Homo sapiens: one gene and its partner. The protein of the gene in region 1 purifies or fractionates together with the protein of each later gene. This does not show direct contact. Each region holds a gene or a part of one and is shown on either strand. Other genes may lie near its edges.

What was found.
Region 2: the proteins of MARF1 (region 1) and KIAA1671 purify together in Homo sapiens (affinity purification with mass spectrometry, with the first as the bait; one large-scale study listed by BioGRID). This does not show direct contact.

What each region holds. Positions count from the first base shown.
Region 1 is NC_000016.10:15,593,887-15,598,154, reverse strand, and holds the end of MARF1 (meiosis regulator and mRNA stability factor 1), read left to right. Parts: intron 1-1,217; coding exon 1,218-1,462; 3' UTR 1,463-3,768; downstream 3,769-4,268.
Region 2 is NC_000022.11:24,951,555-24,955,515, forward strand, and holds the start of KIAA1671 (uncharacterized protein KIAA1671), read left to right. Parts: upstream 1-1,161; 5' UTR 1,162-1,218; intron 1,219-3,961.

The sequences.
Region 1 (4,268 bases):
TCTTGTCCTGCGGTGTCTCCTGGCCTCTGGAGAGGATGGCCCATCTGCCCTGTACAGATCCCTCCCTGCTCTTCATCTGTTGGAACCCAACTCCTCCCCACTGCTGGTGCTGCTTTCCAGGTCACCAGGAACAACCCGTGGACTCCTGGCTTGGCTTTTACCATCTTGGTTGTTCTTGGCAGCGTTCAGCACTGTTGCCCAGGAAAAGAACTGAGGCTGTTGACTTGGAAAATAGGAGATGGGGAAGTAACTGCCTGCGGATAGAACCAGCCTGTGCAGTCAGACCTAGACCATGCCCTGCTCCTGTGCAGTGCCCCCCTAGGGTTGGTGGCACATTGATGTTAGCTCGTTTGTGGGGTTGTGGCCTTTGTGCCTTCAGTCTGGGCAAGTTCAACTGCATGCACCGGACAAGAGAGGAAAATAATTAAAACACTGTGGGCAGTTCTGTCAGCCGCTCTTCTCTTGAGGGTCAGCCTAGGCAGGGAGCTGGCTCTGCTGTCCCCTCTGCCACTCTCACCTTCCATGGGCCTTTGGGAGCAGGAGCCCTGTGCCCTATGCAGTGGGAGTCTAAGGCATAATGATGCATCTCTTTCAAGCAGCGTGGCCCTGTGTGTAGAGCAGGTGAATTACATGTGGCTCAGCCACAGAAATGGCAGTCCAGAAGCACTGTGGGAAAGCTGGCTGTGCTCAACTTCCTGGGTTCTGAGGGTAATTCTCACTCTGCGTAGTCCTTCCTTATCCCCGGTAATAGACCCATGGGGAGCATAGGTCCTCTCTAAATGGAGCAGGCCAGGAGCTCCCTGACACCCAGATGCTCCGACCCCACCCCCTACCACCCACGGCCTCCCGCCTCAGGAAGTCTCTAAGTCGTGGATAGCTTTATGGGTCCTTAATATCTGGCAGGCAGAATGAATGGGCAGAGAATCCAAAATGGAAAAACAAAAAGTTTTAACCTTTGCTCATTCATTTATAGCTCAAAATAGAGATCTTTCCAACTTTGTAATCCAGTGGGAGAGGTGGGATGCAGTTTATAGATACTTGATTTCTGTGCCAAGTTCACTGGCCACACAACTCATATGTAAACTGTGGCATAGATGTAGCATTTAGAAGCTTTTTATTACTATTATTATCTTTTGAGAAAATATGAGCAAGGAAGAGAAAACCCACACTTCTTACAGTTCCTGGATCTGAATCTGTTTGCTTTTCTGTGTTTACAGAAATTATGATTTTAAACCAAGAAGAAAAAATGGAGATTCCAATACCAGGAAAGAGCAAAACTCTGACCTCTGACTCCAGCTCGTCCTGCATCTCAGCAGCTGTCCCCGTGCCTCCCTGCCCCTCCTCGGAAACCTCCGAGTCACTGCTCAGCAAGGACCCCGTGGAAAGCCCGGCCAAAAAGCAACCCAAAAATAGAGTCAAATTGGCAGCCAACTTTTCCTTAGCACCTATAACCAAGCTTTAACTCCCATTTGGAATATAGAATTAGGATGGGAAAACACTGTCTGATTCTGCACACAAAAGTGGGTTTCAAAAATACATCCTTTTCTGTGTCATGAAAACCCCCCGAAGCCATTGACTTCATCTTACCTGTGTTCTATCATGTTTTTCTTTTCCATTGAACACAGCTTTGAGCTGAAGTCTTTCTTTTCTTCTTCCTTTTTCTTTCTTTTTTCAATTATTTGAAGAACTTGTGGCATTTGTTAAAGAATCCTTAATATATTTTACCAAATTTTTAGTAACTATTATGAAATACAATGGTGTTCCAAAAGAAGAAAGCACTAAAAACTCAACTAGCAGGAAGCGGTTTTGCTTCCATTGAGCCACGTCGGTGGTGTCATCCTACATGTAGCATAATAGAGTCTCTCAGCCTTTGCTTACTGGTGTTTCCGACAGTATTAACCCAGTGCGTGGCATGTCTTTGAAGCAAAGCCTGTCCCGCTAGCCTGTGTGTTCACACACCAAAGGAGAAGGGTAGGCGAGGGGTTCGGAGTGTATTTTCAGGTTGGAATGTGAAGGTTCCTGGCTTCCATGTGACTTGTAAGTGTGCCTTGTTTTTTATTTAAACTATGTCTGTAGTTGACAAAAGTGGCTTCATCACAAATTTTTTTAAACGTTTCTACTTTGGGGTTCCATTTAGGAGCTTTCTAGAAAGTTGAGGATGTTTGAAGCTTCCCTTCTGTGTTCCAGTTTGATATGGGTTAGGTTAAGGAAAAGGAGATGGTCTCGATGTCATGGATTTAAAGTCAGCATTTGGATTACAACACACATTATTGTGTGTCGAGAGGCAGCATTGGAAAGAGCCTGATTTTCTAAAATATGCATCAAGTGCATAAATTACAAATCAGAGCTGAGTGGGGAGGTGCTTCAGCAGCAGCGGGATCAATACGATTTCCACTGGGAAGAGACAGGAATTCTACCTACACATAGGAAGGCCAAGGTTGATCCACTTAACCTTGTTATTGTAATTTTAAAGCTGGTATCGGTAGCTGGGAAGCTTTATGTGTGTGTATGTCAGCTCAGCATCTTTTAATCGTGTCTGATTTTACTCTCGTTACTTCTCGCTGTTGGAAGCATCTCTGGGTTTCTTGTGGCGTCTGGTGTGGAATGGCCTTCCTCTCTAGGTGCCTGAGGTGTCCGCTGACGGGTGGCCTCTCACCCCCCTCTAGAGAAACCTGACATTTACAATGGATTGTATTTGTCCGGCAAAAAAGGCGGATTCATTCATAGAGCAGAAAGAACCTGTTGGCGTAAGGTCTTCCACTAGTTAGATGGTTTCTTTTGGGGAAATGTTTATATTTGGTAACTTCTAGAAAGCCAGAAAATGGACTCTGATTTCATAGCATTTTGATAAAATGCCACAAAATAAGGGCTATAGAGAGATTTTTACAAGTCAGATTTTTTGTTCCCCAAATCTTTTAAATGAAGCCAGTGACTCCCAGTTCTCAACACATGGCCCCAGTCAAGACAGAACACCATGGAAAAAACCCTGTAAGTATTATGGCACTCTCCGAATCCTCCTGAAGGCATTTCCTCTACAGACATAGTGTTACAGGAAGTGAAATGCAAATGTGCAATTTTTTTTAAAGGAGCTTTTAAACAAAGTAATAATAATTGGTGTTGAGAACATCAGTTGCCTTATTCTAAGATTTCATAAGGCTGAGTTTGCACGCTTGGACTTCAGTTCTGCTAGCATGTAAAGAGTGGTGGACTTTAAAACCGTAAGAGGTATCATTACAAGTCACCTGGAACAGACTCAAAGAACAGGTTCTTTGGGCAACAGACAAAGAAGAATCAAGTTCTGTGCTGTCCCGTGAGTGTGTCTGAGTACCATTCACTGGAGTTGCTGCTTAGGTCTGGGACGTGTGTGTGACTCTTAACAATTGCTGTCTGAAAATGAGAGAGAAGACTTCGGAAGCACATTGTGTTCATAATGTACTCCACAATGGCCAGTCCAATTGCTATCTATTTTTTTATCCAGAGGCTTAATTAAATGATGTGGTAAAATGATGTTTGAGCATTAAGACAATGTAATTCTTTATTTCTGGGTGGAAAGATATACCGGATTAAATTTATCTGTTTAAAAAAATGACAAAAGTTATCACCAAAACCCCCTTTCCCATCTTGCACTGTTTGTTTTGGATTGGGTTTGGGGGAAAGAGATGTTTTTCTTAGTTGTCTACTTTGTTTGAACACTTTTGTTGTGGTTCAAGTGCTGTTTTGTGTGTTGGGACCAAACAGTTGTCAATAAACTTTACAAGCGAGCATCTATTTTGAGTTTCCCAAGTGAGTGGTTTTGTCTGTCTGTCTGTCTGTGGGGAGGAATTACAAACCAATACAGTTCTGCCATCTTTCATTTTGGGTCTCCTCAACTTCTCTCCCCTTCTGGAAATAGAATTGTGAGGTGGAGAGTAAATCCGTCTACATCTTAGAGGCCTTTTAAACTCAGCACACGCCGAAGCAGGTGGCTGGATGGTGGGCCCTTCGTCGTCAGGATCCTCCAAGTTTTCCAGCCTTTGTTCCAGCTTATAATTACATGTGGGAAAATACAGTAACCACAAAAACCTTCCAGTTAGAAAACTCTATTAATTCCTAGGCTCTCTCTTCTTGTGAAAGAAATCCAGCGTGCCCGCTGTCTCGTTTTTGGTCACTGCTAAGCATGCTTTTTGAATAAGCCAATTTGGAAAAGAGTTATTCCACAGATACAGTTGTGAAGCCCTCCCATCCCCTGAGACCGCCATTACCCCGTCACCCCTGCCACCAGCACCCTC
Region 2 (3,961 bases), on another chromosome or scaffold:
GGCGCGCTCTTGGCTCACTGCAATCTCCACCTCCCGGGTTCAAGCCATTCTCCTGCCTTAGCCTCCCGAGTAGCTGGGATCACAGGCATCCGCCACCACGCCCAGCTAATTTTTGTAATTTTTAGTAGTGACGAGGTTTCACCACGTTGGCCAGGCTGGTCTCAAACTCATGACCTCAGGTGATCCACCCGCCTCGGCCTCCCAAAATGCTGGGATTACAAGCCACCGTGCGCAGCCTGTGATGTCCTTTTCTTTCTCTTTTTTTATTGAGGTCTATCTTGCTTATAATAAAGGCACATTGATTTTAGGTCCTCCAGTTATTCATGCTCTGTACATTTCCCATAGGAGCACATGTCACAGATTCAATTTGATATACTCGTGAAATTATTTGTTTGAATATCTGTAAGCTGCACAACAGCCTGGATTTTGCCAGCTGCCCACCACTGGGTTCTCCAGCACCCAGCATGCAATAGGTGCTTAATAAAGATCTGCTGAATGAAATGAGTAACGGATAACAGAACAGGTATTTTCTCTTTCAGAGGCGACTTCCTACGATTCTCTCAACTTGTCCACAAGTTCCTGTACCCATTACCCCACAACTCACACCCACAACATAATGGCAGGAGGATGCGCACACAGTAGGCGCTCCAGCGAACTCTCAGGTGCAGTGCCCTTGCTTGGCGCGAGGAGGCGCCAGCACCGCGCACAGACCTTGCCCGCCCCCGGGCCGGCACCAGCAGCCCAGGCAAGTCAGTGGGCCCACATTTATGGAGCGCCTCCTGAAATCCTGGGTTGCATTAGGCTCTCGGGGTCGCCGGCTGGGCAGCGGGTCGGTGCCGGTGGCGGGGGATCCTGGCTGGTGACTGGGGAACATCCAGGGAACGCGGGAGGGTACCCGGAGCAAAGTTCCCAATTGGACAGAGCGGGGTCGGGCCTCGAGGGGCGGGAGCGCTTCCGGCAGGGGTGTCCAAGCGAGTCGTGACCTCTGACCCGCCGGAGAGGTCCCAGGCCCAGGCGCCACTGCGGACTCGGGTCCTGCCTGCTCTGCTCCCCTCCGCGCAGGCGCGGCCGGCGGCAGTTCCCATGGTGACGGGGGCGCGTCCCCGCTCGAGGCCCCGCCCCCAGCAGGCTAGGCTGCGCGGGGCTGCGGGCTCCCAGGGCAGGTGCCGCGGGCTGCGGGCAGGTGGCGGCGCGGCGCGGGCTGGCGGTGGCTCCACGGTAGGTTGCGCAGCGGCTGCGGGCAGTGGGGGCCGGCTGGCCGCCTCCTGTCCCCGGCCGACGAGGTAGCTGGGGGTGACGGCGGCTGGCGAGGGCCGCCAAGTTTCTGCCCGGCCGAGGCCCCGGGAGAAAAGTTGGCAAAGTTGGCCGGGGAAGAGGCGGGGAGCCGGAGGATTTCCCCAGACTCCGGGTCTGCAGGGAGGGAGGATCCCGGTTTGGGAGCCGGGGAATCCGTCTCCCGAGACTTGAGAGTGGATCCCGCGGGAAGATCCCGCACAGGGCAACCAATGGATCACGTGCCACCTGGTTGGCGACTTGGGAGTCGATCCCTGGAGGGGATCGGGCGCTGGAGGCCTGGGGTCCCACTGGATCCCCAGTCAGGGGTGACGGCGAAGGGTGATTCGAGACTGGGAGCGAGAGGATCAATCTCCTCCCATGCCAGCCTGAGCCTTGGGAATGGATTCAGAGAGATCCCGTGGCTAGGAGCTGAGGGATCGCTGGAGATCTGGGTTACTCAGCCTGGAGCTGCTAGGGTCTGGACATTTGTGCGGGTTGGAGGCCCCGGAGGTGGAAGTGGGAAGCAAGGGCGGCGAGCGAGACGGAACCCTGGTCGAGGGGAGCCCGGAGGACAGCGCGGTGGTTCGGGGGGCGTGAGAGGGGCGGCGCGCGGGGCCCCTCGGACGCGGAGGCTCCGGACACGTCCTCTCGGCCTGGCCTGCGCCCCCCCTCCGCTCGTCTTCCCAGGGCGGAGGCGCCCTGATGGGATTAAGCCTCAGTCCCCCTGTTACCAGGCAGGCCCGCGTGGTCCCCGCCCCGATGGCGGCGCGGCCCACCCGGGCTCACGGGTGGGGCCCTCGGGATGGGAAGCGGCTCGTTGACCCCCACCCGAGCCTGACCTTTTCACACCCTGCTGGCACAAACTCGCCTGGGAGTGGGGACGCCGCGCCTTAAAACCCTGCTGTTTGTCCAGTCCCGGAGCAGGCGTGTGACCTCCACCGCGCGACGCCTAGGTGGCTAGGGCTTCCTGCCTGCCGGGACTGAACTTTCTCTAGCCAGGAGCAGCCATTATCTTTTGGAAGGGAAAGGACTGTACCTGTTGCACAAAGAAAAACACTTTCTTTGCACCTTTTTTGTGACCTTGGGCAAAACACTTAACCTATCTGAATCCAGATGGGGACCCTCTGGGCAAAATGGGCTTGGCCTAGGATGGATCGGAATGAAGGGTATGAAACAGGTAGGGGCTCTATAAGTATCAGTGCCTCCCTCAGTCTATGGCCTCTCCTTTCCCGTGCCCCATCCCCTGTGCTTGCCTTACAGTATCTAAAGATTCCAGAAACCCTACTTGCTATCTTTTGAAACCGCAGGATTAGAGAGCTATTTAGCTTAACCTTTCTTCCAAATGGGTTAATTGCCCCTCTGATCCCCCCTTGCAGAGAGAAGCTCTGAGGTTTGGCTAATGAGTAACCAAGACATTTGGACAAAGCTTCTCCCTTGGTCTGGCTTTCCCTCTGCTAATCCATCAAGGTTCCTGGACAAACGTGTGCACCCCCAGACTCTGGCGCCTCCTTCCTTCCTGTTGCAGCCAGGGACAGTTCCCGAGGAATTTGTACAGACACAAGCCCAGATCTTGGTGGTTCTGGCAGGGGGATCCTTTTTAAAGGATTTGCATGCTTGACAAGGGTGCAATTACCCAAGAGAAGTGCAGAGTTTCAATGCAGTGTCTGGACATACATTTCAGCTGGGCACATGAACTGGCTGGCTCCATCAACCAGCGTGTATTGAGCACCTATGTCAGGAGCACTGTAGAAATGGTGTGGCCTAGGGCAACTCAGGATTTGTCCTCTTGGAGTTACTTTCCAGCTATGGAGCAGTCGGCTTGCCCTGCAGTCTAGTACTGATTCTTGATGTTGGGGATACAGTTCTCACCCTAGGTTCAGAGGCTGGAAGCTGCCCCTACCCCCACTGGAGGTCCTAGGGGCTGCTTTTTTTCGTTTGTTTTGTTTTGTTTTGTTTTATTTTGTTTTTTGAGATGGAGTCTCGCTCTGCAGCCCAGGCTAGAGTGCAATGGCGCGATCTCGGCTCACTGCGACCTCTGCCTCCCGGGTTCAAGCAATTCTCCGGCCTCAGCCTCCAGAGTGGCTGGGATTACAGATGCCCGCCACTCTGCCCGGCTAATTTTTGTATTTTTAGTAGAGATAGGGTTTCACCATGTTGGCCAGGCTGATCCCAAACTCCTAACCTTAGGTGATCCTCCTGCCTCCGCCTCCCAAAGTGCTAGGATTACAGGCATGAGCCACTGCGCCTGGCCGGGGCTGTTTTTTATTGAAGGCTGACCTTGGCAGGAGAATGAAGGAGCCAGTTGTCTGGCTCTGAGCATTTCTCCTCACCAGGCTACATCTCTGACCAACTCAGAAACAGAGCCTCACAGGGATATTTTATATGTGCATTCATTCATTTATTTATCATTTGTTCCTTCAACAAATATTTCAAGACACTGTGTCAAAGATGAGGCTAGCAGCCACATCCTTAAGGGGATACTTTATGCCCTGAAAGTCTTTGTGAACATATGCATTTGTCTGGAAGGGGAGAACTATGATCATAGGAGGAGGGGCTGATGCCTTTGGCTATAAGGAGGGATGCGGGTCAGAGAGTTTAGTTTTCTCGACAGCCAGTGGGAAGAGGTTGGTGTTATGGGCTGCAGAAATGGAATAGCTTGTGCAGAAGCCTGGAGGTAGGTGAGTGC